Regions from separate parts of the Homo sapiens genome. Here regions 2, 3, 4, 5 and 6 are each reported to be linked to region 1. Evidence: microRNA targets listed by miRTarBase, many of them from high-throughput screens and not tested one by one. Region 1 holds a microRNA gene; each other region holds the end of a gene's coding sequence. Distances are from middle to middle.
The links. Region 1 holds the annotated microRNA hsa-miR-409-3p (GAAUGUUGCUCGGUGAACCCCU, at 2,329-2,350, opposite strand). A microRNA usually pairs through its seed, bases 2 to 8, with sites in the 3' UTR of a target mRNA and lowers its output. Matches are read on the target gene's strand: a 7mer-m8 pairs with bases 2 to 8, a 7mer-A1 pairs with bases 2 to 7 and ends in A, and an 8mer does both.

Region 1 (5,092 bases):
AGAGGGGGGCTGCCACTCTGAGGGCCTGGGGGGTCCTCGGATCATTTTGGTACCAAGCCCAAGGGAAGGGGCCTGCAGAGGTGCCCTGGGCAGCGGAGTTAAACAGCTGGACTCTGCACTTGGAAATGCTCTCCCTGGCAGAGGGAGGGGCACTGGAGGGAGACCCAAGTGCCACAGGCTGGAGGGACCTAGCCTGTGGGGCGGCCTCTCCAGCAGGGCTGTGGCCCAGGGGCTGGGGAAGAGGGGTGCTGAGGGAGAGTGGGAGCAGGCAGCCCAGAGGGATGGTGCCAGGGATCCCCACTCCCATGCTAGGCATGGAGAGGAGCGGTCCCGAGGAGGAGGACAAGGGGGAGGGCAGGCACAGGCTGTGACTTCCAAGGCAGCGACGTCTCAACTAGGGGATGACGGGAGCCCAGCTCAGGAAGATCTCCCGAGCCCAGGAGCTCACTGATCAACAATGAGTGATAAAGGACAGCCTTAGCTCATTCTTTGGGGTCACTCCTGAGGTGCTCCTTGCCTTCAGCCCTGGACCCTGGGCATGGGCAGCATGTTCTGGAGTCACTAAGTCTCCAGGTCAGCTGCAAACAGGCCTCTGGTCATCTTCCTGTAGTCTGGGCAGGCCAGGGGTGCAAATATGACATAAGCATCGGGTAGCTGAGAGCCAGCCCAGCCTGGGGGATGTGCCAACCGGAAGCAAGGGCATGGCGGGTGCTCCCGCTGACACTGGAATTGGGGATGCCATTCTGTCACACTTCCAAAGCCCCCCAGAACAGAGTGGAGCTGGAAAATTAACAGGCCAAGTGACACAGGTCCTACACAAAGTCCACAGGGTCAACCAGCGCAGAGCCAGCTGCTGCCTGGAGTTGACAGCAAAGAGGAAGGCATCCAAGGTGGGATTCGATATCGGAAAGAGGTTGACTGTATAATATTCATCATATAGAAAGTGAACACCTCACAGGCAACCTATTTCAGGTACCACTGAGCAGCACTGACTCCAGGGAGGAGGCTTCTTCCACAGGGAAGGGCCCTGCCACCCACCCGCCTCCAGGATGGAGGCCAGCACAGGGCTGCAGGTGGAAGTCAAGCGCGTGCTCGGCCACCAGCCATGCCTCTGGGGGCCCACAGGGCGCGCAACCGGACCTCCCCGACATCAGCAGGTGCAGGAATCATGCAGGTGGGATCTGATACTGAAGAGAGGCCGCTCGTGTCTTGTGTGTCATGATTTCTGTGAATGCAACACAGGCCACCTCTCCTCAGGCACCACAAGGAGCAGCACACGCACACGGCCACCCAAGGCACCAGCTCCCACCCAGGGTCTCACAGCACTGAGATGAGCAGAAGGCAGCCCAGGTGCAGGGAATGCATGCAGCCGCCCCCAACATCCTGGCGAGGGGTGGGTGGCCTTCCAGCAGGATGCCTTCCAGCGGGACTAGCTCCCCCGTGTCCTCTGCCTCGATGACACTGGCCATGAAAAACAGACTGAGCCCCGTCACCATTGCTCATCAGCTTCATGACCGCCCCCCACCACAGTGCACAACCCTAGCATCTTCCCCAAAGTCCACATGGCCCCCCGAAAGCTCTCCCAAAATGATTCAATGGCGGGGGTCAGGGGAAAGGATGACAAATGTCACACCAGCCCATGCATTCACGTACCCTGGAAAGTCCCGCCTCAGGCGTGGCGCCCGCACACCACCGGGCGGTAGCGGTACTGAAAACAGGCCATCTGTGTTATATTCGTCATTAATAAAAGCGAACTCATCACAGACAACCTCTTCTCAGGTACCCAGAGTGCCATCGGCTCAAGAACGTGGCTGCCGCGTCCCGTGGTGCCAGCGCTGCCCCCGGGAAGCAGTCCTGAGGACGGATGGGACATCAAAGGTGAGAAGACACAGAGACAGGAAAGAGACCCCTGCCCGGCCCACTCTCGGTGACCAGGCCCCACTGAGGCAGCGACTCCAAAGCACCCGTCCTGCTCCTACCCTCAAAAGGGCTTCATCTCCAACGGGTCCTCCAAGGTGAGATTTGATACTGAGAAAAGATCAACCATGTATTATTCGAAGTCAATAAAGCGAATATAACACGGTCGATCTCCCTTCAAGTACCAGGAAAGGCGCTGAGCTGAAGCGCGATCGGCTCCCCGGCCCGCAGGCCCCACAGGCTGCAGCGGATACGGACGGCTAGTGGACCAGGTGAAGTACATTAGAAACAATTACTTTCCAACTGGTCGACCATCCATCCCCGTACCCCAGAATGGTGCTGATGCCGGCGTCCTTCCCCGAGGTGCCCCAGCCTCCAAGACGGCCTCCCTGGTGGAATTTGATACCGAAAAGGGGTTCACCGAGCAACATTCGTCGTCCAGATGCAAAGTTGCTCGGGTAACCTCTCCCCGAGTACCATGGAGAGGCTCAGATGCTCGGACTAAGGTGAATGCTTGCAGGCGGCTGTGCTTGCAGAAGACCCTCCCCCAAGGGCAGCACAAGGTCTGGGCATTCAGAGCCCAGAGCCTCACACTCTCCAAGGACGTTCCCAATCACCAAGTCCAACGATTCCAACCCCTTCCAGAATGAATCTAGAGACTCTTCCCAGAAGTTGAGTGCAAGACCCAGGTAGGATCTTATACTGAAAAGACGGCAACCTTCCTTGGGCACCTTGCTAAAGATGAAAATGAAACCCTGCTCGCACCCGCTTTTCATTCCCAGACCCTGAGAGGGGGTGACCCTGTAGGGACCCCTGCACAAGCACAGAGCCTCCCTCCCAGCAGAGGATTCCTTTGGCGGGAGCTCAACGGGGCACAACGCTGACCCCAGACCTGCGGTCTCACCAGCACCATCTCCAGCCCACAGAGGCATCACCCCAGGATCCCTCAAAGAGTAACTTCACAGTTATCAACAGCTGGCTGACCATCTGATTAGCCTCATAAAGCAAGTGAGACATTCAAAATAAGGGACTGGGGGGATAAATGCAGCAGAAGAAAGCAGGTGAGTCACAGATGTCTTCTCTTCACAAGGGTCAGGGCAGCCCTGACCTCAGAACCCAACCTTCCCCAGACTCAGAGAACACCCAGAAGGTGCCTCCTGGAGCGGGCAGCCAGCAAGCATCGGGCCAGACGATGGATGCCACAAGCAGAGTCCAGATTCTGTGCCCACCACCCATTCTGTGAACTTTGGAGTGGGACCGACAGCAGAATCCTTTCCCTGACGTTGGCATGAGCTCAGAGAGCCCTCTGCGCCTTGCTACAAGTGGAGCAAGAGGCCAGCCATGCGAGGCCTGCTGTAAAGAAAGAAAAGATGTCACAGACGACTTCCCTTCAGGAGCCATGGGCACTGACCTGCATCAGAGCCTCCTTCCTGGGGCAGGCATCACCTCCCAAGGTGGTCCCGGAACGCACCGGAGTCAGCAGGAGTGGAACAGATGACATGCACCGTGGGTACAATCGGGCCTGTCCCATGGGCGGCCCTCAGGCACCTGCCCTGGAGAGGGCTCCGGCTGCAGGCCGCCTCCTGAGGGTGCTGTTGCTTCTGGAAATTCTCCAGGTAGGGTTTGATCTGAAAAGAAAGCCATGTGCAATGCTGGTCACCAACAAAGCAGGCCAGCAAACAACGAGCTCTTTCCACAGCCCCAGCAAGGTTTTTGACCTTGGAAACATCAACTCCAGAATGACTTTCAGCCTCTATGACCAAATGACATTCGGCACCAACGAAGGGCACGTCCTTGGGGCCAGCATGGAACCATGTAAGGTATCAACAGCAGAGTCTGAGGAAGGACTGAACCCCAGAATGTTCCTGGATGCCTGTGTGTTCATCAATAGCCTTGGAAGTGTGAAAGGAAAGTTATCTCGGGCCCCTAAAATCACTAAGGAAAACTCAAGCTGGAAGCTGCTCAGGATAAACCTGCCTCTCATTCCATTCAAAGTCATCCCTCTGCTCACTGAGACAGATGCGTATCTGATTTGCCTCCTTTGGAAAGGCTCATGAGAAACGCGAAAGAATGTAATCATTTGTGTATCACCTGTCTGTGACCTGGAAGCTCCCTCCTTCCTGCCTTCGCTTCAAGTTGTCCCACCTTTGCAGACAAAACCAATGTACTTCTTACATGTGCTGAATGATGTCTCATGTCTCCCTAAAATGTATAAAGCCAAGCTGTGCCTTGACCACAGTACTTCCTGAAGCTGTGTTACGGGTGTATCCTCAACCTTGTCAAAATAAACTTTCTAAATTAACTAAGAGCTGTCTCAGATTTTCTGAGTTCACAGAAGCAACTGTCCTGAAAGACCAGACCCCACTGACCGTAGAACTTCTGCTTCCCTCCGGAGTCAGCGTCTCACCCAGAACCCTCCGTGGGGATGGAGGGAGACCAGGTGATGCCTGTCACTTACGTATGAATGCTCTGGGGACAACATGCACCCAGATCCCCGGGAGGACGCCTTACCAGTGTGTCACGCCTGAAGTCAGCACACCTTTCCGGGAAGCTCTCGGGAAGGTTTGGGGCAGCAAGAAAAGATCAACTGCATAAAGGGGGAGACTGTATCCCATTTTTTGACCCTAGGTTCCTACTGACCCCACCAACTCCACTGTAAACACGCACAAATGTAACCACCTTCACAAGAATTGTACCAACACTGATATTCATAGAAACGTGTTTTTCAGAGCCAATGCCATTATACTAATCCAATTCCCTGTTTAGCTTTCCTGACCGCGCTGTTGAGCTGTTTTCATTTCTCTTATTTCCCTTGTTATTTTCCCCAAATCATTTTCATTAGGATCAATTTTTTCCATTTAAAAATCTGCATGAAGATTTGATTCCTCAATGTGTTCTTGTCTACATCAAATATCACTGTTTATCACCGCCGCCACCGTGAATTTCCTTCCATGGCTGCCACGTCGGCAGCTTGCTATTTCCCCAGGTCAAATGTCACAGCTGAAATGTTGTCAAGAAAATTGGATTCCTCTGCCAATTTGTAGTCAACTGAACACATTTAGCACTGTGCCGTTTCAGCTGTTTTTAGTTTTATTTTGTGTTGATTATTTTTATCAGTATTATTTAATACAAATGGGATGAGATACTGATAGCCTCTATTTGTTTCATAACCCAG
Region 2 (5,092 bases), not on the chromosome of region 1:
TTATCTCCAAAAAAAAAAAAAAAGTAGATGTCTTAAATAACCTGAATTGGTTTTTATGGTTTTATAGATGGAGCTTAATGTAGGCTTTAGTTTTTAAAATATATCATGGTATGTTTGTGTCAAACATCAGGGATTGCCAGTACCTCTGTAAAATTTGGGAGCACTAATTTTACACATTTTGGATTTGTATTAATCTTTTACTCAGGAGACCTATTTTCTCAGTTGGCATTAAATATAATCAGCTTTTTTCTTTCTAATGTACTAGGACAGTTCGTGTGGCAATGCAGGTACCTGTTGTAATGACATCATTGGGTCAGAAAATTTCAACTGTGGCAGTTCAGTCAGTTAATGCAGGTGCACCATTAATAACCAGCACTAGTCCAACAACAGCGACCTCTCCAAAGGTAGTCATTCAGACAATCCCTACTGTGATGCCAGCTTCTACTGAAAATGGAGACAAAATCACCATGCAGCCTGCCAAAATTATTACCATCCCAGCTACACAGCTTGCACAGTGTCAACTGCAGACAAAGTCAAATCTGACTGGATCAGGAAGCATTAACATTGTTGGAACCCCATTGGCTGTGAGAGCACTTACCCCTGTTTCAATAGCCCATGGTACACCTGTAATGAGACTATCAATGCCTACTCAGCAGGCATCTGGCCAGACTCCTCCTCGAGTTATCAGTGCAGTCATAAAGGGGCCAGAGGTTAAATCGGAAGCAGTGGCAAAAAAGCAAGAACATGATGTGAAAACTTTGCAGCTAGTAGAAGAAAAACCAGCAGATGGAAATAAGACAGTGACCCACGTAGTGGTTGTCAGTGCGCCTTCAGCTATTGCCCTTCCTGTAACTATGAAAACAGAAGGACTAGTGACATGTGAGAAATAAAATAGCAGCTCCACCATGGACTTCAGGCTGTTAGTGGCAGTACTGACATAAACATTTGCAAGGGAAGTCATCAAGAAAAGTCAAAGAAGACTTTAAAACATTTTTAATGCATATACAAAAACAATCAGACTTACTGGAAATAAATTACCTATCCCATGTTTCAGTGGGAAATGAACTACATATTGAGATGCTGACAGAAAACTGCCTCTTACAGTAGGAAACAACTGAACCCATCAATAAGAAAAAGGATCGAAAGGGACCAAGCAGCTCACTACGATATCAAGTTACACTAAGACTTGGAACACTAACATTCTGTAAGAGGTTATATAGTTTTCAGTGGGAGGGGTTGGGATGGGTAATCTCATTGTTACATATAGCAATTTTTGATGCATTTTATATGCATACCAGCAATTATTACTGTGTTCGCACAGTTCTCACTTAACTGGTGCTATGTGAAGACTCTGCTAATATAGGTATTTTAGAATGTGAATTGAAGAATGGATCCCAAAAACTTCAGAAAGAGGATAGCAAAAAAAGATCTAGTGCGATTTTATATATATATATATATATATATACATACATATATATATATCATATAGCTTAAGCTGATTTAAAACAAAGGCCTTAGACTAATTTTCGATTTTCTTTCTTGAAATAAGCTAATGGCTTGTTTGTGTAAAGCTTTTTTATTAAAAGAAAAATTTTAAAAATCTTGTACCTAGCACAGTATTGTTATAGAATATACATGTAACATTTTATATGGTAGTTTAAGTCTGTCAGTTTCTTAATTGTGGACAAATTAACAGTTGGCTCTGGCCTTTTGCTGTAACATGCCTGTGTCACTCACTTAGCCTTGGCATTTGTGCAGACATACCATTTTCAGTTCTGCTGTCACTTGGAAGTTCAGGCTCAGCATGAATTTTTGGCAGGTAGCTCTAATACCTGGAGTTTTCTTTGTTTTTTTTTCTTTTTTTTAGTTGAAGTTTATGAGGGAAATACCAGTGTTCAGTTTTGAACTATAATAGTTTGTATATTCAACATTTGAAGTATATTCTATTTTGTTGTACTCTTGTTTCAAAGTGTATTCAAGTAGGTTTTCTGAAATATAGAAATGAAATTTATCTTCTGTTTTGGTCTCTGGTGATATTTTAAACAATATTTAAAAGTCAGTATAGAAGTGTTTTAGTTAGGAAGTGATAAAACATCTCTCTTCTCCTTCCCAACTACTGCATGAAGAAATTCTACTTCCATTATATTAATATTTGGCAAATATCTGCATGTTGCCAGTTTCTTTCTAATTATGATGAACTATAATGTTCTGCTTAACGTAATGAATTTAGTATTTTAGTTGGCTGCACTTAAAGAATTTATATTTGTAAAACACTTTAAACCATTTGTTTCACAATCAGACCTTTTGTGGATTAAAAAGAACAATTACTCTTCTAGCCCTTTTACAGATTAGGAAGTTAAGGTATCTGAAGGATTACATAAACTATGTAATTTTACTACTGTCTGTCACTCCATATCTTAATGCTCTTTCTACTACAAAGAAAAGTTATCTATTTTTACATGTTTTAGAAATGTAGATGAACTCATACATAATATTTTTTGTCTTTTAATTGATCACATACTACTTAGGTCAGAAATTGTTTATAACAGTTCCCTTTGTAATCTTTTAAACTTTTCCATAAATATATTGATGATACTTTTATACAAAAGCTCAAAGAAAAACTCACTTGATTATTTTCCCATTTGGGAGTTACTCTCAAATTCTGTCTCCTTTTAAAACATTTCCAAAATATTTCAGCTTTGAAAATCAATATTAAGTGCTTTGGCACTTAATTGTATTATCTTGTTTATTGCACTGTGACTTCATTTGTTTGTCATGTCTTCCATAATACTCATTTAGAGCAACGATTATATTTTATGCCATACCTACCCCTCTCCCCAAGTGCTGAGCATATTAGACACTCAGGTCAGACATTTATTGATTTTGGGAACATTTGCTGAGAATATAAGTCACATGCTTAAATACTTTGCTTCTATGCTGGATTCTTAATCGGTTCTAACAGGGTTAAACCAGGGCTATCTAGCTACCTCTGCTACTCTACTGGAAATTTTTTTCTCTTTGAGAATAAGCACATCTAAAGTCTAGACTTGGAGCCAGGTGCGGTGGCTCACGCCTGTAATCCCAGAACTTTGGGAGCCAAGGTGGGTGGATTGCTTGAGGCCAAGAGTTTGAGACCAGCCTGGCCAACATGGTGAAACCCCGTCTCTACTAAAAATACAAAAATTATCCGGGAGTGGTGGTGCAATGTTTGTAATCCCAGCTCCTCAGGAGTCTGAGGCACAAGAATCTCTTGAATCTGGGAGGTGGAGGTTGCAGTGAGCCAAGATGATGCCACTGCACTCCCTTCAGCCTGGGTGACAGCGAGATTCTGTCTCAAAAAAAAAGTCTAGACTTGGAAACATACATGTTGACAGTATATACTGATCAGAATGTTGCAGATTGAAATTAATGATGTGCCTCACCCCCATCCTTCCTGCCCTTTTAATGCTATGGCTTTTAATCTCAGCCCTTCCAAACTATAAATCAATATAATTTATAGTTGCTTTTTTGTGTCCAGTGTATTAGAGGGAAAAAACCCCACATAACCTTGGCTTGATGCTACTACATTTTCCAGCCTCACTAGATCTTTAAATTATGATCAGTAGTCTATCAATTTATTCTTTAGGCCACTTTCCAGCATCAATTCCAGCCTTCACCACCCTTGTCACCAGATAACCAGTATACCTCTACAGAGAACATGGTCATGAGCTGTGAATTCTCTCCATTCCTGGACCCCTTGTTACAGATGATTTAGTTACTCCAACATCCATCCTTACCACCTGTCTCAGGAAGGAGGTGCCCTTCCTCCTGTGCCCAGCATCTCCCTTTCACACCTACTTGGTCTCCTTGCTCCAACAATTAATAGCCTATCTTTCTGTCCCTTCTTTTTCTTCAAATAGCCTGCAGTCTGAATTCTTGCTTAGAAACAGTTCTCCATGAGATCTCCAGTAACCCAACTGTCAAATTAAACGGACACTTTGGTTCACTTAATCTCATGGCCTACTTCTCAAAACTTACTTGGTTTCCCATGTTTACTTCCTGCCTAACCAACTTGTTTTTTCTTTGTTCTTTCTGCCTATGGGCTTCTTTCTTCTTTTCCTCATAGAATTGTTGTCAGGATTAAATGAGTTAATATATTAAGGATTTGTAACTAGTGTCTGGCACATAGAAAACACTCTTATTAGACGTTTACTATTATTTCACTAACATAATTGTTAGATAATCTCACCCATGCCTATGGTTTTTACTACCAAATCTATTGTTAAAGCCTAGACTTTTATGCTGTCATTTTTTTTCTCTGTTGGAATGCTTCATGAAATTGCGTGTCATCCTTGTGCAGGGGCTGTGTTAATCTGTGTATCGTTCCAGTATTAGGATATGTGCTGCTGAAGCAGGCACTACTGTATCTTAGGTGGGTTTATCTAATTGCCACTGGCTGTTTCTTCCTGAGTATCCATTTGAGCTCTCTTCCCTCCAAAATCTGTTTCTCTTAGCCCAATAAATAATACCAGCAACCCATTACTCATACTAGAAGCAACCTGGGGGCCATCCTAGATACTTTACCTCCTCTAATCATTAACCAAATTTCTACTCATAGTACCTTCTAAATACTTTCTTTTCCATCCTCCCTGTCTTTGTCTCACCAAGTCTCTCTCTAATCCATTCTCCAGGCTACCAGTTGAGAGCTTTCTAAATGCAGCTTTCATCACTCATGAACCTTTGTGATTGCTTCAGATTCTTCAATGGCATCTCTTGCTAAAAAGATATGCCTAAGCATAGCAATTAAAGTCCTTTGATCTGGGCTCCTCCTGTCTCCCCAAGCCTCATTCTCTTGCTACTCCTCTTTTAGACTTACTTGGGCTATATTTCATTTTTTCCCAAATATTCTAGGCATTCATACCTCATGAGTCATCCATTGATGGCTTCTTTCTGGACAACTCGTTCCTCCTTCACCTACATTGGAGTTCAGTTTTATTTACTGAGATATGAGGTGACAGACATCAAAATAAAAGTTTCTGAAATAGGTGTGGAAACCATTCAGGTTGGGGAGTGATCTGTGAGTTAGCTCAGAACTTAAAGAGTAGAAAGAGTA
Region 3 (5,000 bases), 32 Mb from region 1:
TCTGGGTGAGCCCCTGGATATCTTAGGGGCTTTATTGTCTTTCCCAGCTTTAGTAGGGGAACTAACAAAGGCAGATAGACTTCTAAGCTAGCATTCTGTACTTTGGCTGGAATATTCCACAAGCTCATGGCTTTGGGCCATAAGCCCAAAGGAGTCATTTCCCAACTTCAGTATTTTGAAACATTAGATATCCTGTTTCCTTACAACGTGACCATCTTGCAGATAAGCACTGCTAGATCATCTGCACATTCGAGTAAATCCTGTTGTGAATTGAACAGAGTAACTCCTCTTGCTTATCCAGGCAATGTTAAGTGCAGGGCACAGGGAAGTTTAAGCTTTGCCTCTAAGCCTCCATTCTGAGAAGCATCTTACCACCACTGTTCTAACAATGAAATGCAGTTAGGATTCAGACAGGTTTTCGATCCACGTGCACTATTGCATGTGAGAAGCATCACTGAGAAATTCAAAATTACTTTTAACTATTTGAATTCATGTAATTTAATTCCAATATGAGTGCTCAAGGACAAATTAGCACTCAGATCGGAATATCCCACCTGAGAACCACACAGTTTGTTCAAAACCACTATCCTGCTGCTGCAAGGCTGGGACTCACTGAGCCTTACTTCACCTTGGTGTTTCAATCATGGCATGTTGTCTTGCTTAGGTCATGGGGGAAGGACAGTCTTCCTTTGGAAGCGTCTGTTTTCCTGACAAGCCTTGGTTGGCAAGAATTTTTCAGTTAACTGTAGCAGGCAGCTTTACAGGCAGGAGATACGAGTTTTGCTTTTTTTTTTTTTAGAAAAAAGTTTGCAGTGCATGCCTGGAGCAAGGCAGGAAATGCAATTTGGTATTTGGAAACATCAGAAAATATTTCTTTGGGAGCTGTTTGTAATGTCACTTCACTGCATTGTTCCCTCTGTTCCAACTAATAAAATTATCAGTTCCAGAGTCTCGCTATCTTAAGTCCCTTTAAACCTGTTAAGGAGAACAAATAAATACCTCCTCCTACCCTGCATTTTGTTGTCCAGATGTGACCTTTGTCCCAATACCTAAAAGTGACAATGACCATTGTCATGGATGTGGAACACTGCAGTTTTTCTTCTAGTTTTCAGCATAGCTTTCAATCAAGTTTCCAACTAGGCAAGAATTAAAACAGAAAAGAAATAAAGGAGAGGTGTCTAAGCAACCAAGTCTTCCCTGGAAGAGAAGAGGAAGACGTGAGAAGTGAATAATAGGTTTATTTGCATATACACAAGAGAAGAGTTAACCGTTACTGGGTGAGAAGGAGGTAAGGCTTCAGCAGAGGAAGGCACCTTGACAGACAAACAAGAGACTCTCAGCTTATTAAATCAAGCATAGTCACAAACTTCACTTGCCCCAAGCCAACAACTTAACTCATTTACCTGCTGTCCTAGAGAATCATTAACAAAACCAGCTGGAAAATAGAGAGAAATGATTTTACATATCTGGACCTGCCACTTAAAACTTTATGTACAGAATGCAGGAAAAAAACATAAGAGGCACTTCCAAATAGTTCTTGATCTAATCAGTGCCATCTGTCCTGCTATTAAAAATATCTATTATGGAAGAAATTGGGTATTAAATGTGCCATCAAAGTTGGGGCCTCAATTCTAAAAGAGTTTAGGCAAAGGTACTCTAGAAGTGGTTCCTGCCAGGTTTCCAGACCCACAACCATAGACACAAAATCTCTGGAGATGAGGGTGGAGCAGCTATAAAGCAAGCATTTCTCACCCTGCTCATGTGTGTGTCTTATGGGGCCTATCACCCGGTAAGCTGAGCCTAGGATGCTGGGAAGCCTCTGCCAAGGATGGAAGGCATACTTGCTAAAAATGATCTTTCTTGGCTTCTCAAGTTAACCAGAATAAACTCTGATTTCTCTTTTGAGTACCCAAATGAGATTAAGGCTTTTAACATGAAAAGACCAAGTTCTGCATTTGGGAATTGTAACTACCAAGTAGCTAGTTCCCAAGGGAACTTTAACTACTTCTTTTCAGGAAGATATGTATCCGATTGTCCTTTGAGAAGTCAGAAGAGGCTAAGTACTTATTAAAATAAAATAAATAGAATAGAATAAAATAAAGGACTGGGTGTGCTGACTAAGAAGGGGAAGAGAAACACACACTGAGTGATCGTATTTTTTTTGTATATAAAGGATTAAAAAATTCCAATTTAATACATTTTGGAAAAGCAAATGTAAAATGACTTGGGCTTATAAAACCAGCATTTACAATTATCTGTGAATAGTCAAAGACAAATCATAGAACCAATCTGATTACAAATCCAAAGTAATTCTAATGTTGGTTACAGAATCACTTTCCCACTCCCCCAGTAAAAGTCCAGGTGTTAAGTTGTACACACCCCCATGCTACACACACTCCTTCATCTCCTTCTCAGTGTTTTCATACCCCAGCCGCATTACACACACCAGGCACATCTTCTCTTTCACAGAGCTTATCAGGATGGTATCTCCTTTTGGCTTAAACCAACCACCTTGTGTTTATAAATAACCCCCCCACCCCCAGTGCCTGAATTCATCCACATCTTCTGCCTTCATAGGCAGCCTCCCCTTGGCTCCAGTTCCAGCAGGACAGGCCTTCCTCTGAAAGGAAGCCTGGGGCAGTGAGGCCACACTAGTCAGCGTTCGGCCCTCCCTACACCAATCCCAGCTGGGCTCCTAGTTGTCTAGCACCTTTGCACTCAAGAAAGTTATATTGTTTTTCTCTCTCTTCCTCATTTCTTGCCAGTATTCTGCCTTTTCATAACATTTATGCCAACAAGATATCTGGTCATTCCCAGACCTTCCTGTTTTGCACAACCCTTCATAGATAACCGAGTGACTGCAACGCTGAAAATCTGTTGCTCTTTTCTCTTCTAAACCTGTATCTACCTCAATAAAACTGAGTCTTTTATGGGAACCAGAAGACTTAAGACTAATGGGAACCAGGAGTCATAAGCCAGAGACTCCTCCCCAACACCTTCTGACTCCTAATAGACCTACTCAATAAGAATCTGTTACCTTGAGATGCCTACTGCTCTGCAAAGTCTAGTGAGAACACCACAGCCTCTATCAACTGCAAGTCTGAGGGAAGATGCCAGTCCCACCAATTCTGACCAATGGTTCTGGGTTGAGTTAAATGAATATAGTACCACATTCTGCTCCTCACTAAGCTTCTTCGTTAACACACCTATAACAACTACTTTAGTAGCCTGAGCACAAAGCTCTGGAAAGCTGTCTTTGCCCTTCTTTCACTATGCCTCGATCGATCATGGGAGCCAAGGAAGCACCTGCTGGCCTTGTGAGTGCCTCTTAGGATCTAGCACCTAACTGGTTAAAGTCTGTTATCCATGACTAGCTCTATTTTATGGCCTTCATACAGTACATGTTGCAGCACTGCTCAATTTGCAAACAGTGAAATTTATCAGGAATCTATATTCTCTTGAATCTGATCTTAAGTGCTAAACCTCTCATTAGCATTAAAAATTCTTTTTTATAGTATGTCCACATTAAATGCTCAATAAAGAAGTGTTACTTAGAGAAAACATGGAAGATTTCTTTAAGAAAGGAACCATGCTTTCCTCTCCAGCGCAGCCAATGGGCTGAAGGCCTGTTTCCATTCTCCATTCTTCCAGCATAAATCTACAACTCACTGGCAGCACAACCTGATTTAACAGGCACCCATCATCCAGACCAGAACACCTATGGCATGTAAACAGGGTGAGATGGCAAAAAGTACAAATTCATAGGTCCTTTCTGATGGAGAACTAAAAGGAAGGTCTTATGAGACAATAAGCGCACACGTGCCATTGTGCGTACACAAGAACAAGTCGAACGTCTCAACAAAGATTTACTTCCACAGAGCCTTGCGCGGCACACTACGCTCACGTCTCACTAGAAAGGAGTCACTTGGGTTATTTTTTTTTCCCCTTTCTTAACACAGCACAAGCCAATGGCCAGCTAGACATTCAGACCCGTTGTTGAATGTTGGATAGAAGGGAGCAGCATCAGACACAAAATTTCAGGCCCTGGTTTCATGTGCCTTTAATACTTGTTTTTCCTTTCCTCTGTATTCACTAAACAATTTTTTTTTTTTTGTAAGGCTACTTTTGTAGCTTTTTGTTTTCCCTTTGTATTTATCATGTTTTTAATTTCTTCTCTGAGGAGGAATTCTCTGAATCTGTATCTTCCAATTCAATTCGTTGCCTTTTGAGGCCACTGTGGCCATGAACAGCCCTGCTACTATCTGTGGCTGGGGTGTCAGTGGGGTCCTCTCTTGTTCCAGCATTGGGGGTCTCACAGGCCATTTCAGACCCGCAACAATCTTTGTGTAGGAGTGTCCCTGTCAGGGACGAGTTATCACGGTCAGTGTCTGAGTGTCCTGGGGAAGAGTAGGCCACCACCTCCAGCTCCCCCAAGTTCTGCCCGTTATTGTGAGGGTGAGGGGGACGAGGGTGTAAGCGTCCATTGTTGTGGTTGGCACAGATGGTTTCGAGGCTCCTCTCCTCACTGTCATCAGACTGGGTCCTGGGACAGTTGCCAGACCCGCTGTTGAGAGTGGAGCCAGATGCCTTGGGGACAGGAGGAGAAGGCGGCTCCTCAGCCCGACTGCTCAGGGCCTTTCCATTGAGCTTCTTGGTTTCAAAAGGGTGCTCTACAGAGCCGCTATTGCCAGTGTCCTGAGAGGTACCCTCTGGCACCTCTGCCCAAGCATGGCTGCTGTGCTCATGGCCTGGGCCATTGCTGGGAGTTCTAGGAGTCTCTTCTTTAAAAGTGTCCTTGCTGCAGCCTTCAGGTGGCAGGTCCTGGTTCCTCTGGGCCATTGCTATGTTTAGACAGGCTTCCTTACTGGAAGAAGGGGCTGGGTTGTCTTTGTGGCTGGTTCCTGCTCTCCCTTCATCTGCCTCCCCGGTCACCAAGGAGGTCTCTCCATCTTTGTTATTTGAGTAGGAGATATAAGAGTAGCGGAGCCACTTGTAAGCTT
Region 4 (5,092 bases), not on the chromosome of region 1:
ATGATTAAACTTATCCTTGAGGTTAAATTTAATAGTTTATGGAGAAAATAAAACCAGTAAGATTTTCCTAGAAGTGAAAGTAAAAAACTTGAATGAAACATTTCTTGCCTCCAATCAAAAATATCAAATTTTGTCAATTTATTGAAGTTCAATATAGGAACACAAGCTTTACTGAAGCTGTTAATTATGTAACACACAGCAAATTACATAAAATTGCATATGAAATACTTATGTTTATTAACACCACAGTCAAACGTGAATATTAATATAGAGCCTTCTCTGCCAAAAGAGTATAAAAATCCTAAGTTTAATTAAATTTAGGGGCCTTCACCAAACTTGCTGCAAGTTTGGGGACATAAATATCCAACAGCCATAAAGCTGTGAAAGCCCCTATAAGGAATAAAATAAATCCCACTTGCCTCAGACTGAACAGGGCAACACTGAGACTCAGCCTCAGCCTGTCCTATGGCAGGGCTATAGGAAGAAGAAAATTTTAATTTTAGAAAAACAGTTCCCAATTAATTTAAAAGACATGCATTAAAATTTTTTTTTTTAAAAATCCCAATGATCAAGCAAGCAAAAGGAGCAGCTTTGTTTTTAACTATTGTCCACTACAATTCCACTCTGAGCCCGTACTTCTTTTTGTTGGGGAATCCCCCTCCCCAATTAATTAAGTTTAATTAAGGTGAGTCTAAGTTCAAAATGTAACTTAGTGGAATAGGAGTACAGTAGGAATATTTTATTCATACCTAATGGCAAATGTGTGAGACACTACTAAAATACTAAGTATTCAAATCAAGTAATTCCAGCAGCCACTCAAAAATTAATCCTTACCTGCTGTGGTCTTGTTAAACAGTATGAAAACTTATACAACAGAAACTAGTGCCAGACAAAATGTTTTCTTGTTTTTCTAAAAGGGGTGGATGTAAGGTAGAGCCAAAGTTGCCAGCCCTACTAACCTTACAGCTTCCTTAATTATGACAATCACAATGCCTGCCTGAATTATCAAGTCCCAAAAGTTGTCTTCTGTGAGGGCAGTTGGCATCCACTTTGACTCAACTTCATCTACTACTTAAGGAAGGTTGAGTCAGAGTTAATTATATGAATATAATTTGCTCCACTCATAATTCAACCACACTATGGACCCCAGAAGCATTTAGAAAAAAGGTATTTTCTAGAAGCTTAATTACGTTTGGATGCATGCAAAAATTACACTTCAAATATATTAAATGGGTACACCACCTCTGAGCCTATAGCTACAAACTCAGGAACTCATGAGCTTAAGTTTTATCTGCCAATGCCTAACACTTTCAATTAATTTTTAATTAGAATTCTATCCCATATTTAAAAGTTCCATTTTTGCCCATCAGACCTATACAGAGAGCAAAAAACCTTGCTACAAAGTATCAACCTTCTTTGCATAAAATGCAAATAAAGCTTCACATAATTTCTGAAACAGGTCTACTAACCCTATTGCAGTTTGTCAATAACCGTATACATGAAATTCCTGAGAATTTGGGAGAGCACCCCTTACTTAATTATTCTAAATTTAATCACAGCATTTTTTTTTTTTGAGACGGAGTCTCAATCTGTCGTCCAGGCTAGAGTGCAGTGGTGTGATCTCCGCTCACTGCAAGCTATGCCTCCCGGGTTCACGCCATTCTCCTGCCTCGGTCTCCAGAGTAGTTGGGACTACAGGCATCCGCAACTACGCCCAGCTAATTTTTTGTATTTTTAGTAGAAACGGGGTTTCACCGTGTTAGCCAGGATGGTCTCCATCTCCTGACCTCATGATCCACCCGCCTGGGCCTCCCAAAGTGCTGGGATTACAGGCGTGAGCCACTGCGCCCGGCCTATCACACCATTTTTATCTTAAAGACTTTCAACACAAGTTTTCCTTCAGCAGTATATTAAGTGTGCTGCCAAATCAAAGCAGCATGTATTAATTTTGAAACCATTTAGGTAAGCAGAGGTTCAGAGGGGAAAGTGGTTTGGGACTTGGCTGCTGGCAGAAAGAAATACATTACTGGCAAAATACCTGTTTTATTTTCAAACTATGAAAATTTTTGTACCACTATGGTACCACAAGCACAGGAGCCAAAATCATTGAAGCCAGATAATCAGATATTTTAATTTATTTTTTGACAGAGTCTCGCTCTGTTGCCCAGGCTGGAGTGAACATAGCTCACCGCAGCCTCGGAAGGAGGAAGAACCTCCTTCCTCAGCCTCTTGAGCAGCTGGGACCACAGACACACACTAACGCGCCTGGCTAATTTTTAAATGTTTTGTACAGATGGGGTTTTGCCATGTTGGCCAGGCTGGTCTCAAACTCCTGGACTCAAGCAATCCTCCCATCTCAGCCTTCCAGAGGGCTGGGATTACAGGCGTGAGCCACTGCACCCAGCCAATGTGAGTTAAAATAGCATTCAGCTTTATAATACTTGCAATGTTTTGCTTAAAGGTATGACTTTCATCTGTCACATAAATACGAACTCTTTTGTGATGGCTAAATCACTTTTCAATATATTTTCCTTCAAAGTTAAAGCCCTTTTTTCCATACAACTTCAGACTTCATGTGTTTTATCTATACCTTCACAGGAAAGTTATAAAGAAATGTTACCATTTTCTTAGAAGTCTTAACTTTATAATGAGAAAAACTCAACTTGAGTTCATTATATTAATACTTTGCATAGGTTATTTGATGCCTAAAAAATCATAAAACTACCCTGCAAAAGATCAGAAAAACAGATCCCAAAAAGGTCAACAAGAGCTATTATTTTAAGAGGTTGCAACACAAAATATTGAATAGCAGTCATCTCTACAGAAAAGCTCTCTGTAAGAACACAACATTCAAAATTTCCAAGGATAAATAAAAAGTTGCACAGTAAGGCTACCTAGGCTTAATAACAGAAGGTACTCAAATGAATAATGTAATCTTCCAGGAACATAATAAAAATTGCCAATTCATCTGTTAACCATCCCAACAGAGACACATTTAGATTCTCAGCATTACACTTAGAATAATATATAATAACCCATTAACAGCACAAGAAGCTATTACTGCATGCACCTAAGCTTCTAGAAGTTTGCACCTGAAAAGCTTCTGAGGTCCATGCAGTACTGAGTCTCAAAAATAATCAAAAGGAAATGAATGGGTCTGGCACTAGGCTCTAAACATCTCAGCAGGAAGGAAAAGTGTTAACATTTACATTTTAAGTATCTATGACACGTGATGTGTACTGACACCATAGAGGGTGGAAGGGTGATTATAAAGATTTCATACCCATTATGTAATGACTCATGTATCTTAAGTTTTTCTCTTAACTGAAACATTAACATACAACTCTATGCAAATTCAGTTTAAAACATGCAGCTAAGAAATAACCTACAACTCAAAGACAGAATCCAATGATATATCAAAACTGCATTGGTAACTATGAATTTTATTATGTGGACATCTACTGTGGCATGCATCTGTACAAACCTTTCAGGCAGTGGTCCACAGCTGGGTTATGAATAAAAAGGCATAAATTTTTCTCTCATTTTATTACAATGAAGTTTAACAGTACAGAAAAGTCACATGACCTTGGTGGGTCAGATTTCTTAAACCCTGCAACATGAGGAACTCTAAATACATTAAATATTGTTACACATTCAGACTTCCAATGTACAAGTACTTGGAAACAGTTACAGCCCTCACCAAGCTAGGTTGGGGACATGAAGTCCAACAGCATCTGAAATGCTGTGAAGGCAAACTTTACAAATAGCAATGTAAGCTTACAGAACTTGCCTTTACTAGGGTGGTATGTTCATGTAATTCCAGCGCCTTCACAATTTAACGAACCAAATTTACTATACTTCACTTCTAAAAACCTAGATGAAACATGAAAAAGAAGCCATACAGTATAAATTGCAACTTCAGGAAAAGTTCCTGCTTTATTATTCCAAATAATTTTTCCCATGTAAAATAAATGTCCAATAGTTCCTGGTATGTGGGAAGATAATGTTTGTTAAAGTCACAATGAAGCCTTATTGACGGAAGCTTGGCTATATAAACAGCACAAGTTGAGAAAAGGTTTAATCTCCAAACCTATTAGACTGGATGAAGTAAGATCAGTAACGGCCACCTTGCGACATTACAGGAGGTCTCATTCCCATCGGAGGTCGAGGAGGCCCACCCTGGTAAGGGGGCACCATTGGCGGTCCCTGCCCATACGGGGGCATAGCACCAGGAAGGTATCCTGGCATGCCTTGATGATGACCACCATACTGACCTAAAATCAAGAATTTCAAACACAAAAAAATAGATTGTTAACGCATTGTACTTTTAAGTGCAACGTATGCTGCAGATAAATTTAATATTTTATGCGTGAACTTAGAAAATCCACTAAATATGAAAAACATAAAAAGAGGAATACCATGAGGTGGCATTGGGGGTCTCATTCCTTGTTGCTGTGGGATGCCTGGCTGTGGTGGCATCATACCTCCAATTGGTCCAACTGGTGGATTACCGATGGGGGCCTGTCCTGGCCGAGGAAGATTACGTTGATACTTAGGTAACTGTGCCCTTCTCTCTTCCTGGGAATAAAAATAAGCGCAGGGCTAAATACTCGAATGCAGAGGCTCACCAAGCATAAAGGCATGCATCTAAAATCTTACAACGTTAAGAGTAATTTTCAAAAATTTACCCTTACATCCCAACTATTTACTTTTGCCAGACAAACCAATCCAACTACTTAAACTCTAGATACCTTAAAACTTCACCTATTTGTAAACTTGAAGCATGGCTAACAACTTTCCGGGAATTACAAATTGCTTCAACAAGAAACTATCTAATGAAGTATTGTTATTAACATTCTTTTTTTTTTTGAGACGGGGTTTCACTCATTGTCCAGGCTGGAGTGCAATGGCCTGGTCTCAGCTCACCACAACCTCCGCCTCCCGGGTTCAAGAAATTCTCCTGCCTCAGCCTCCGGAGTAGCTGGGATTACAGGCATGCACCGCCACGCCCGGCTAATTCTGTATTTTTAGGAGAGATGGGGTTTCTCCACAATGGTCAGGCTGGTCTCGAACTCCCGACCCTCAGGTGATC
Region 5 (5,092 bases), not on the chromosome of region 1:
GATTCTCCCGCCTCAGTCTCCTGAGTAGCTGGGGCTGCAGGGGTGCACCACTACCCCCAGCTAATTTTGTACTTTTAGTAGACAAGGTTTCGCCATGTTGGCCAGGCTGGTCTTGAAACTCCTGACCTCAGGTGACCCACCCATCTCGGCTTCCCAAAGTGCTGGGATTACAGGCATGAGCTACCACACCCAGCGTCAGATGCTTTTAAAAAAAACAACTTCCCCAAAGAGTGCCTCAAGTTCACAGAAAATTCTAAAACTGCACCCAAGCACCGTCAACTACACATTGTTATTCACCACAGAGAAAGTATCAAATGTCTGTTGCATTAAGTGGCAAAATTTGGTAACTAATAAATTTCAATCCATTTAAAAACACTGTAAATATAGTATAAATGTTGTCGATTCAACTAATGATTCCATAATTAGGAGAACTTAACAAAACACATGGAGACCCCTTGCACTCAAACCCTATGTCTGCTCCTCTACTTTCTCCCCAAATCTTTGGTGGAAAGGATATGTGAATCCCGAAAAGCTCTCAGTGACCATCAATTCAAGGTGACAGGCTGACCACATGCTTACAGCCTATTTCTACTGAGACTTGAATACTGATAAGGGAATAAAAAAGGGTTTAACACAATGACAAAGAGGTAGAGTGAGATAGCAAAAGATACTTCAAAAAGCTGCCTGGAAGATAAAAAAAAAACAAACAAAAACAAATTAGGCCAGGGGTGGTGGCTCACGCCTGTAATCCCAGCACTTTGGGAGGATCACTTGAGGTCAGGAGTTCAAGACCAGCCTGCCCAACATGGCGAAACCCCGTCTCTACTAAAAATACAAAAATTAGCTGGGCATGGCGGCGCACCTGTAGTACCAGCTACTCGGGAAGCTGAGACAGGAGAATCACTTGAACCCTGGAGGCAGAGGTTGCAGTGAGCCAAGATGGCGCCACTGCACTCCAGCCTGGGCGACAGAGCAAGACTCTGTCAAAAAAAAAAAAAAAAAAAAAAGATTAAGAAACAGAAAAATTAGCAAAATTAAATAAGGCTTAAATTTATTATTACTGTTGTTGTTTTGAAATGGAGTCTCACTCTGTCACCCAGGCTGGAGTGTTACCTCTGCCTCCCAGGTTCGGGTCATTCTTCTGCCTCAGCCTACCGAGTAGCTGGGATTGCAGGCACCCACCACCACACCTGGCTAATTTTTGTATTTTTAGTAGAGACTAAAAATTGTCTTGCCATGTTGGCCAGGCTGCTCTTGAACTCCTGACCTCAGGTGATCTGCCTGCCTCGGCCTCCCAAAGTTCTAGAATTGTAGGTGTGAGCCACCATACCTGGCCAGAAGATTTAAATAGCCACAGAGAAAGATTAAGTGAGACCTTGTCTCAAAGAAAACAAAAACAAAAACAAGAAAAACTAGGAGTGAGCTACTTTACCCAAAAGAACGCTTCAGAGGTTTGAAACTCAGAAGGCACCACCAAAGTTGTGAAAGGAGCAGGGCTGAACACAGAACTGGTTTAAAGCATGTAAACAGAGAATTGTTTGTTTTAGGTTCCCTCTGCCATATTATATGCAACCAGAGCCATCACTTCTCAGCTGTGTGCAAACATGAAGAAGCTTCCTAACACCTCTAACCATCAGTTTCCTCATTTGTAATGATATTACGAAAATGCCTACTCCATAGGATTATCGTGAGGATTGAGTGAATCAATACATATTAAGCACATAGAAAAGTACCTAGCACATGGTAAGCATGCAATAAAACTTGTTGTTTTAAGCCTTTGATGCGATTTGCCTTATAATTAATTATGGTGTCTATACTACCTTGAGAAACACTAATTTAAGTCAAATCACCTCTGGGGACACATGAATGAGGAAGACATAATGGCACTTTCATCTTGTGAGCACAGCTCCATGACGTATCACAGTGACACGGGCTTAGTCTCAAAGCAAGACTAACAATCATAAGGGTCATAGGTAAATACTAAAGACAGTAAAAGTGGTGGGAAAAAGGAACTAGGTGTGGGAGAGGTGCCTTGGAGCGCTTAATGTCATTCTGTGAGTACAGTAGCTACACATTGCTTACCTTTGAATAAACGAGAACCCGATTACAATAAGAAGTAAAACATATGAACAGACTGAAATAAAACACAATAATCCATAAATATCACATAAGAAATGTTATCCAGAAATCACAGTTTGTGCTATCTGAAAACCATTTATTGCAACGACAAAACTAGAGGTTAATTACTTTTTATTATTGAATTATATTGTAAAGTCTACATCTACAATTTAATCAGGAAGAAATGCTTTGCATTTACATCAAGGACACATTTATTCTAATGGAATAAAACAGACACACACAAAAGACCAAGTACATGTTTTTAAAAAATGACTACATGTTTCACCTGGTCCTATTTTTGCTATTTGGACCATACTTTTAAGTGAATTGATCTTACATACATGTTAAGTCTGATTTATCTCCCCACATTTTTAAACACTAAATGAAGCTTCTCACAATTTCTAATTATAAACAAAAGGCTGAAAACAGTATGGGAAACAAAGTTTCAAAACAAAGAAAAGTTGAGTAAAAGGTGCCCCCTCTATGGCTCATCTGAAAGAAACATTTTACTCAGAGAGGCAAACATTTCTGATCTAGGAGTAAGTTTCCCACTCACTTTGCAAGGACCCACTCATTCTGCAGAAAGACCTACAAGTCTTTCTGGTCTCAATTGCAAAGTACGTGAAAATGTGTATGAAAGATCTAAAAGCTAAATATTAGAATAAGGCTAATTGAAATCAAAATTGTGTGCTGGTCTAAATATACATCTTCGGCTTCTTCCTTTTTAGTAAGTATTTTTATTTCAGATGTATTTAAAAATAACTTACATTTTTAGTGTGCTTTATGGTCAATGACTGTAAAGTTGAAACTCAAATGAGTCAGTTTAAAATTTTTGTCTCATTTGATTCTATTGAAATTTTAATCACCTACTACTTTAATCAAGTTATTCATGAGGTAAGTTTCAGCTTAAAAAAAAAAATCATCCACAAAGATAACCATTTCAAGAGTACACAAAATCATAATGCCGGCCGGGTGCAGTGGATCACACCTGTAATCCCAGCACTTTGGGAAGCTGAGGTGGGCTGATCACTTGAGGTCAGGGGTTCGAGACCAGCCTGGCCAACATGGTGAAACCCCGTCTCTGCCGAGGCAGGAAAATTGCTTGAACCTGGGAGGCAGAGGTTGCATCGAGCCCAGATCGTGCCACTGCACTACAGTCTGGGTGACAAGAGTGAGACTCCATCTCATAAAAAATAAAAAAATAAAAAATAATCATAATGCCCACCTCTTAAGAGTATACAACTTTATTAACTACTGCTTATGATGTAATATAAAAGCAAGTACTTTTTGTACTTTTTTATTTTTTTTGAGATGGAGTCTTGCTCTGTCGCCAGGCTACAGTGCAGTGACGTAATCTCTGCTCACTGCAACCTCTGCCTCCTGGGTTCAAACGATTCTCCTGCCTCAGTCTCCCTAGTAGACAGGACTACAGGCGCACATCATCACGCCCAGCTAATTTTTTTGTATTTTTAGTAGAGACGGGGTTTCACCATGTTGGCCAGGATGGTCTTGATCTCTTGACCTCGTGATCCACCCGCCCTGGCCTCCCAAAGTGCTGGGATTACAGGCGTAAGCCACCGCGCCTGGCCCTTTTTGTACTTTCTAATCAAATTATGCTGGGAAATATAGGGCAAAAAAAGCTCGGCAAAATTTGTTTCTGGTAACAAGACAATGCAATAATGAATCCAAATGAAACATAAGACCAGTGTTTACAATTTCTAACTTCTAAACAAACATACACACACTTATCTAAAACATATTTTGGTAGCAAACTGGATGACTGAATAAATGTTTTGCTGTAAATAAAAAATACAAATTTCCAATTATAGCCTTATAGCTAGCTAAACAGCTTTTCAAAACATGTACAGCTAGCCAACAATTCTCTAAAATATGTATGTTACACTAAAAGATCTCTGCTAAAAATCTACTGTATGTAAATGGGTCTTACTGAAATAGGACTTTCATGATACTGTGTCTTAAAAAGTGAGTATGATAGGGCTACAACAACATTACTATTAATAAAGGTTACAGAAGAGATTATTGCTGTACTTTTCCTCATAAACACCATCAAACTTTGTTGCAGTTACAAAAAGTACAACCAAGTTACTTTTCCTCTTACTGAATTTCATTATGTTTCACATATTTGCAGTTTTTATTCAGCAGAGAATAATTCTTAAAATCTTTTCTGTAAGAATTCTAAGTATTTAAATGTGTAGCTTCACATTATACTACCATGTTTCACCCTTCGTTTCCCAAATACACAAAAAACATATACATTTTTTCAAAAATGAAATAAGATGCCCACATTAAAAAAATAAAGCCTACAAAAAGTTCCAGAGCTAAAAAAGATTATTCATATGGCACAAAGTGATCTCCTACTAGTCCAAAGTTCAAAAACATTTTAATGAAGTCCATTTATATATATTTTGTTTGCTTTTCAATGAAATACTACATTTATTGAGGCGAAATCACATTATTTTTAGTTCTTGGAGTCAACAAGTGTACACAAATGTTTTTCAACAGTTATTGAAAATAGGAGACCAAGTTGAACGTGCCAAAGAGATACCATTCAGTTGGATTTTCTAGGGTCAACATGAAGAAAATTAGAGAAGGGATTTACTTGGTTGGTTTCCATAGCTTGATAGACCAAAAACAAAAAAACTGCCACAACAACAAACAGCAAAATTTTTATCCATACGGGAATGGAGCGTCCCTTTTTTGTCTTTTCTGACTTGACATCTGCCAAGGGAACATACTTAGGAACATATTTAGATGAAAAAGACTCCTCCATCCTGAAATCACTGAGTTCTAATGGCCGGCCTGCAGCCCCTTTGATTGGTCTGCGGCAACTAGCACTGTTGGGAGTGAAAGGAGGAAAAGAAAAATAATTTTAGATAAAGGCATGATTTAGAGAAATAACATAAAATGTCATTGCCACTCCTAATTCCAAGCACATTCCCTGAGGTAACAGTAG
Region 6 (5,092 bases), not on the chromosome of region 1:
ACTTTGAACTTTAGACTTGTGGGTGGATGCTGGAATGAGTCAGGACCTTTGGGGCTCTTAGGATGTAATGAAAGTATTTTGCATATGATAAGGACATGAATTTGGTGAAGGCTAGAATGTTGTGGACTGAATTGTGTTTCCCCAAAATTTAATCCCTCACCCTCAAAGTGACTGCATTTGAACACAGGACCTATAAGAAGGTAATTAAGGTTAAACATCATAAGAATGGGTCCTGATCCAATAAGATTAGTGTCCTTATAAGAAGAGTGCTCTCTCTCTCTCACTCTTTCTCTCTCCCCCATATGAGGACATAGTTTGAAGGTGGCCATCTACAACCCAAGAAGAGAGCCCCCACCAGAAACCAAATTGACTAGCACCTTCAAGTTGGACTCCTCAGACTCCAGAACTAAGAATTAACTTTTGATTGTTTAAGCGCTGTAGTCTGGTATTCTGTTATAGCAGCCAGAACTAAGACACTACCATTTATCACCTTACTGCCACCCTATGTAGGAAGGCAACACTTTATCCTCTGCCATACTTCCTGTCATCTTTCCTTAATGTATTTTCATTTTGGCACATATTATCATCTAACTTACAATAAATGCATTTTAAACGTATTCTATTTTGTCTTCCCTTGTTAGAACAAAGTTTGTGAGGGCTTTTATTCTTTTTCTGTTTTATTATCTGCCATATCTCTAACACCTAGAAGACTTCCTTCGCTTCTTGTCTTTGGAAAAGTAGCCTTTAATAGACTGAAGAATATTGAATTCAGCCTAGGAAGTCAGGAAAGACAAACAACAGTATATAATGAAGAGCCAAAGCAAATAAAAAATTAAAATGTATATATTAATTAAAATTGAAATGCAAAGGATGTAAATCTGGTAAAAGAGTATGTCTAAATGTAGTTTTGTAGCAAAAAGTATTCTTATCAGCAGTCCATAAATTAAGGCACAGTATCTTACAGTCCTAGGTTGAGATTTTGTAAGAACAAATTACCAAGAATAATGGATACTTCCAGGAATATTCAACACATAATACTCTGCGGTCATTCCAAGAAACAGTATGTATTATTTGCTTTGCAGGAGAGTAAATACTATGAAATAATAGACGCAAATCCATTTAAGCATAATAGTTATCATATTTCGATTTATTTCCATGTAAATTGGTTGTTACATGCTGAGTTAGTACAAAGAATTATAAAAAAGATAATTAAATGCATTGAAAAATATAAAAAAATAACTGCAGCATATTAGACTACATGATTTTTAACTAAAAATCTTTGGATTGTGAAAGTACCACTTAACTCCCTATTTGAAATCTGGCCACAAACTCATTGCCAAACAGCATATTCTATACTGAATTAGATTATCATCCCACAAAATACAGAATGTGCATTTCTAAGGCATAATGTATGTTCAACAATATACTAATATATTTTGGAAACCACTAAATGTCAAGCATTATCCATACAGGGTATTAACACATTAATGTTTTCATTAAAAAAGAAAGATCTCTTTCTTCATCACATTACACATTTATAGAATAGAGATCTGTCAAATAAATTACTGCAAAGTAGTTCAAGCTAAAACTTATAACACTTGAATCATATAATCGGGAGCAAATAACCTTTAAAATGAAAGACAAATGGTGAAATTTAAGGGCATTTAATTTGCATAAATGTAATGTTAACAGTCTTTTCCTGGTTACATATTTTATGCTTAATTTATATATGTCACTCTATTAGGTCCTTAACACTCTTATAGGTCAGTTTTAATTTTTTCCAATTTTATTTTACCATAATAAGCATTATAGAAGTAGTTTGTCATATATAAAAATAAGGTAATCTCATAAAAATAATTCATTGTGACTCTAGAAACAATCCAGCATCAAGACCACTACACAGTTTTTGTGTTGTCAATGCCTGCTTCAAAATAAACATTTGCATTTTAGAATCTTGTGTGTCTAAACTCATGTTTAGCTCTTAAGCTCTCAGAACTCCATACCAGAGACTTCCTCCAGGTTAACAGTCATTGTAGCCTTGGTGTGTGGAAGTCTTAAAACAAAGGTCTTCATAAGGTACATGGTTTGGTCTTCCTTTACATTGAATAAAACATTAGCATTTGACCCCCAAGTTATTGGACTTAAAGTTTTATCCACTAAACTTCTACTATAAACACTGAAATGCATTAAAATATAACTGCTCAGACAATACTGTGTCCACTTTATCAACAAACTATAAAAACCATCCATCAATTAACTATGATTTTAATGTCAGAACTGATCCATAATCTCTAATAAATTAGAAAGTGCCTGCATTATACAAATTCAATTACAGGAGTTGCATAGCAAAATATCAATTTATACACAGCAAAATATATTTTCATTTTTGACTTTCCTTAACTCATGCTTACCTACCAGTGACCAATGAATTAGAGATGGTGAATATTACCATCCGCCATTGGAATAATTTAATTGGACAAAGCAGAATAAAATTATTTTCTCTAAGGAAACTTTACCTCCAATTATTACTTCTGCTTTTCCTTGGAAGAGTGTTTGATGGGAATGTGAGTTGGCCTCACTCATTTCAATCCAAGTTAGTGATAAAGAGACTGAGGCTACCATAGGGACAAACACTATTCTTTGTAGTTCATTTCAATCAAAATTGAAATGGCTGGATATGTTATAAGAATTCAAAACCTTTCTTAATTCTCTTTCATTTTACTACATTGCCCTACCTACGATTTAATGTTAAAATTAATGGCCATATGAATGTTTACCACACATTTGCTAGAGACCATTATAATCCATCACTTGGCAGGCACTAGAATTTACTTTTATAGATGCCAGAGAAAGCACCTAAATGGCTGGTATTTTAATTTTAGTTTCAACTTGTTTCTCAAACTCACTTTAAAGTACCTAGCTTTTTCTTACTCTGGTAATTTTTAGAGCGGTTAAAATGCTGTTAAAAGCTTAAGCATAATTATGTGTCTATGCCTATCTTTGAAGGTGATAATTTTTTCCTAGGTAAATCAATTTGCTAAATTAAAATGTGAAATTCTATGTACTTGTATGTGATTGAAAATATATGTATAAGCATGAAAACAGTAACATACAGTTCAGCCTAGCCTATGGCGTTTATTTGTCAATTATCCTGTTGGTTTGGTGGGTTTGAAGATAATCACATCAAGCTCTCCTCTAACAAAAGAAAAAAAAATCTATGAAGATCTACCTACCTATCCATCCATATGGATATAGATAAACATATTATATTGACTATCTCTGAAATAGGGAAGTCAAAAATTATTACAGTTCATCTTATACTGGAATAGCACAAAGCTATTCTGCTAGTGGTATTTTCTCATCTAAAAATTATAAAATGTGTAATTTTCATATTCTCTTTCTCCAACAAAGCTTCAGTGGAAAACAGAGCCTCTTATTGGGTAGAAATGTTAAAATTAGAGCTATTGGGTCTGAAGATCCTAAGCATTTCCAATATTCACAGCAAAACAGACCAATGTCAAGAACTTGGTTTTATTTGGATACCCGTTTCTTTCGATTATGAAAACATTCCTGAATACTTCAGAAATGGATGTATGGAAAGATATGGAAACGAATTATTTCCAGTTTTTCATTCGTTTTGTTTGGTTTACTTTTTGTGAATTTCACATCTTACTGTGTAAAGTAATATTTAGCCTTATTGATATTTCAGAGGCCTATACAGAGAGAAGTTGTGTGAAAATGGCACATTTGCTAAGTTGTTTTTATGTATTAGTTACAGATTATCTTAAAATTTTACAAATGGCTTGTAAATGTTCCAAATTACCTATGACAAAAGTATTTCTCAATTTTAAACATCAACTTACAGCACAATAGAAATAAAACAACACAAAATAATATGGTAAAATAAAATAAAACCATGTTTACCCTTCAGTACACTAAAACTAAACACATACTGATTTTTACATAAAATAACTAAGCGAATCTTCTTACTAACAAAAATGAGAAAAAAAAGTTGGCAGTTCTTTCCAACTGCTATGCAGTTACTAAGTCACATCGTACTTATTGTAGCAGAGGTCATCTGTAGGATCTAAACAACCAAAAAGTTGTGCAAAATGCCAGCATATGGCCTCTTCAGGCAGTTGGTAAAGACAAGAGCTGTACTGTGACAAAAGGGTCTCAGACTTCACTGTGGTCACTGAGTTTGCTCAAATTCTGAAATACCAGAGGAAGAAGTAAGTATGTGCTATTTACTCAACTCTTAAATTGGTACCAAAGTAAAAGAACAGTAGTAACTGAAGCAAGCTGTCCAGCTAAGCCAAAGAAAATGAACCTTTTATGAGGCATCAGAGTAGAGCAGTTCAAAGCTCCAGGTCCAAACTCAAACTGCTGACTCTGCAACCAGCTCTACCACTTACAGATGGTGTAATTTCCCTGGTCAGTTTCCTTGTTTCTAAAAATGGGTTAAATTATCATATCTACCTCATAAGGTCATGGCAAATTCAGTTAAACAACATAGTAAAGCTTTTAGAATATTCCTGGAATATAATGAGGGCACTCAATATATGTTAGATTTAATAATAATAGTGTTATTATTATTTTGTAAATACATACTGTTCTGATTGTATACAATAGGGATGACTCTGCGAGGCACCAAATGTTATTCTAGGGGTGAGGAAAGGCAAAACAATTCAAAACTCAAGGAAAAATTGCAGGAAATTAAAGCTCTAAGAACAGTTGTAAAACTAAACCATAAGCCCAGCATTTGTAAAATAACTTTGACACTTCAGATCATGTGAGCACTAGATTCTACAAATAGTATTTCCAAAGATGGCAATATAAGCTTAGAGGCAAGATATCAGAGCAGAAAAAACTTAAAAGGCCATATTTAGAGTTTTTATATTTGAGAAAGGTGGATTCAAGTCCCCAGGACAGTAGATCCTGGAAGAAGCATTTGTTGTACAAGTAAGCAGTTTGCAAATGATAGGCAACCACCCAATCCTCAGAGCGGTGGCATTGTTGGAAGATCCAAGTTATCAAACAACAGTTTATAACTGGCCTAAAAAAAGAATGGAAACATTCTTTTACCTGTAAT

Region 2: the mRNA of ELF2 is a reported target of hsa-miR-409-3p. Seed matches in the 3' UTR shown: 7mer-m8 at 1,926-1,932.
Region 3: the mRNA of DCAF5 is a reported target of hsa-miR-409-3p. Seed matches in the 3' UTR shown: 7mer-m8 at 4,000-4,006 and 8mer at 2,314-2,321.
Region 4: the mRNA of ZNF207 is a reported target of hsa-miR-409-3p. Seed matches in the 3' UTR shown: 7mer-A1 at 4,002-4,008.
Region 5: the mRNA of TMPO is a reported target of hsa-miR-409-3p. The part of its 3' UTR that is shown has no 7-base or 8-base seed match.
Region 6: miRTarBase lists SLC26A7 as a target of hsa-miR-409-3p. Seed matches in the 3' UTR shown: 7mer-A1 at 2,744-2,750, 7mer-A1 at 1,681-1,687 and 7mer-A1 at 1,486-1,492.

What each region holds. Positions count from the first base shown.
Region 1 is chr14:101,062,604-101,067,695 of GRCh38, reverse strand. MIR409 (microRNA 409) reads right to left here and starts at 2,396; the gene lies at 2,318-2,396. It overlaps MIR541 (microRNA 541), which reads right to left and starts at 3,201; the gene lies at 3,118-3,201. It overlaps MIR412 (microRNA 412), which reads right to left and starts at 2,249; the gene lies at 2,159-2,249. MIR369 (microRNA 369) reads right to left here and starts at 2,098; the gene lies at 2,029-2,098. It also overlaps MIR410 and MIR656.
Region 2 is chr4:139,054,781-139,059,872 of GRCh38, reverse strand. ELF2 (E74 like ETS transcription factor 2) reads left to right here. Exons shown (of 10, transcript NM_001331036.3): 10 at 266-2,608. The coding sequence ends at 890. It also overlaps the pseudogene RNU6-531P. Among named protein-coding and RNA genes, the nearest start is that of NOCT, 42 kb to the right of the region's middle.
Region 3 is chr14:69,049,702-69,054,701 of GRCh38, forward strand. DCAF5 (DDB1 and CUL4 associated factor 5) reads right to left here. Exons shown (of 9, transcript NM_003861.3): 9 at 1,180-5,000. The coding sequence ends at 4,156. Among named protein-coding and RNA genes, the nearest start is that of ACTN1-DT, 73 kb to the left of the region's middle.
Region 4 is chr17:32,368,781-32,373,872 of GRCh38, reverse strand. ZNF207 (zinc finger protein 207) reads right to left here. Exons shown (of 12, transcript NM_001098507.2): 11 at 4,419-4,578; 12 at 1-4,274. The coding sequence ends at 4,114. Among named protein-coding and RNA genes, the nearest start is that of ZNF207, 21 kb to the right of the region's middle.
Region 5 is chr12:98,547,454-98,552,545 of GRCh38, reverse strand. It overlaps TMPO (thymopoietin), which reads right to left. Exons shown (of 9, transcript NM_001032283.3): 9 at 2,195-4,973. The coding sequence ends at 4,688. Among named protein-coding and RNA genes, the nearest start is that of TMPO-AS1, 34 kb to the right of the region's middle.
Region 6 is chr8:91,394,182-91,399,273 of GRCh38, reverse strand. SLC26A7 (solute carrier family 26 member 7) reads right to left here. Exons shown (of 19, transcript NM_052832.4): 19 at 1,119-4,212. The coding sequence ends at 4,177. Among named protein-coding and RNA genes, the nearest start is that of SLC26A7, 150 kb to the right of the region's middle.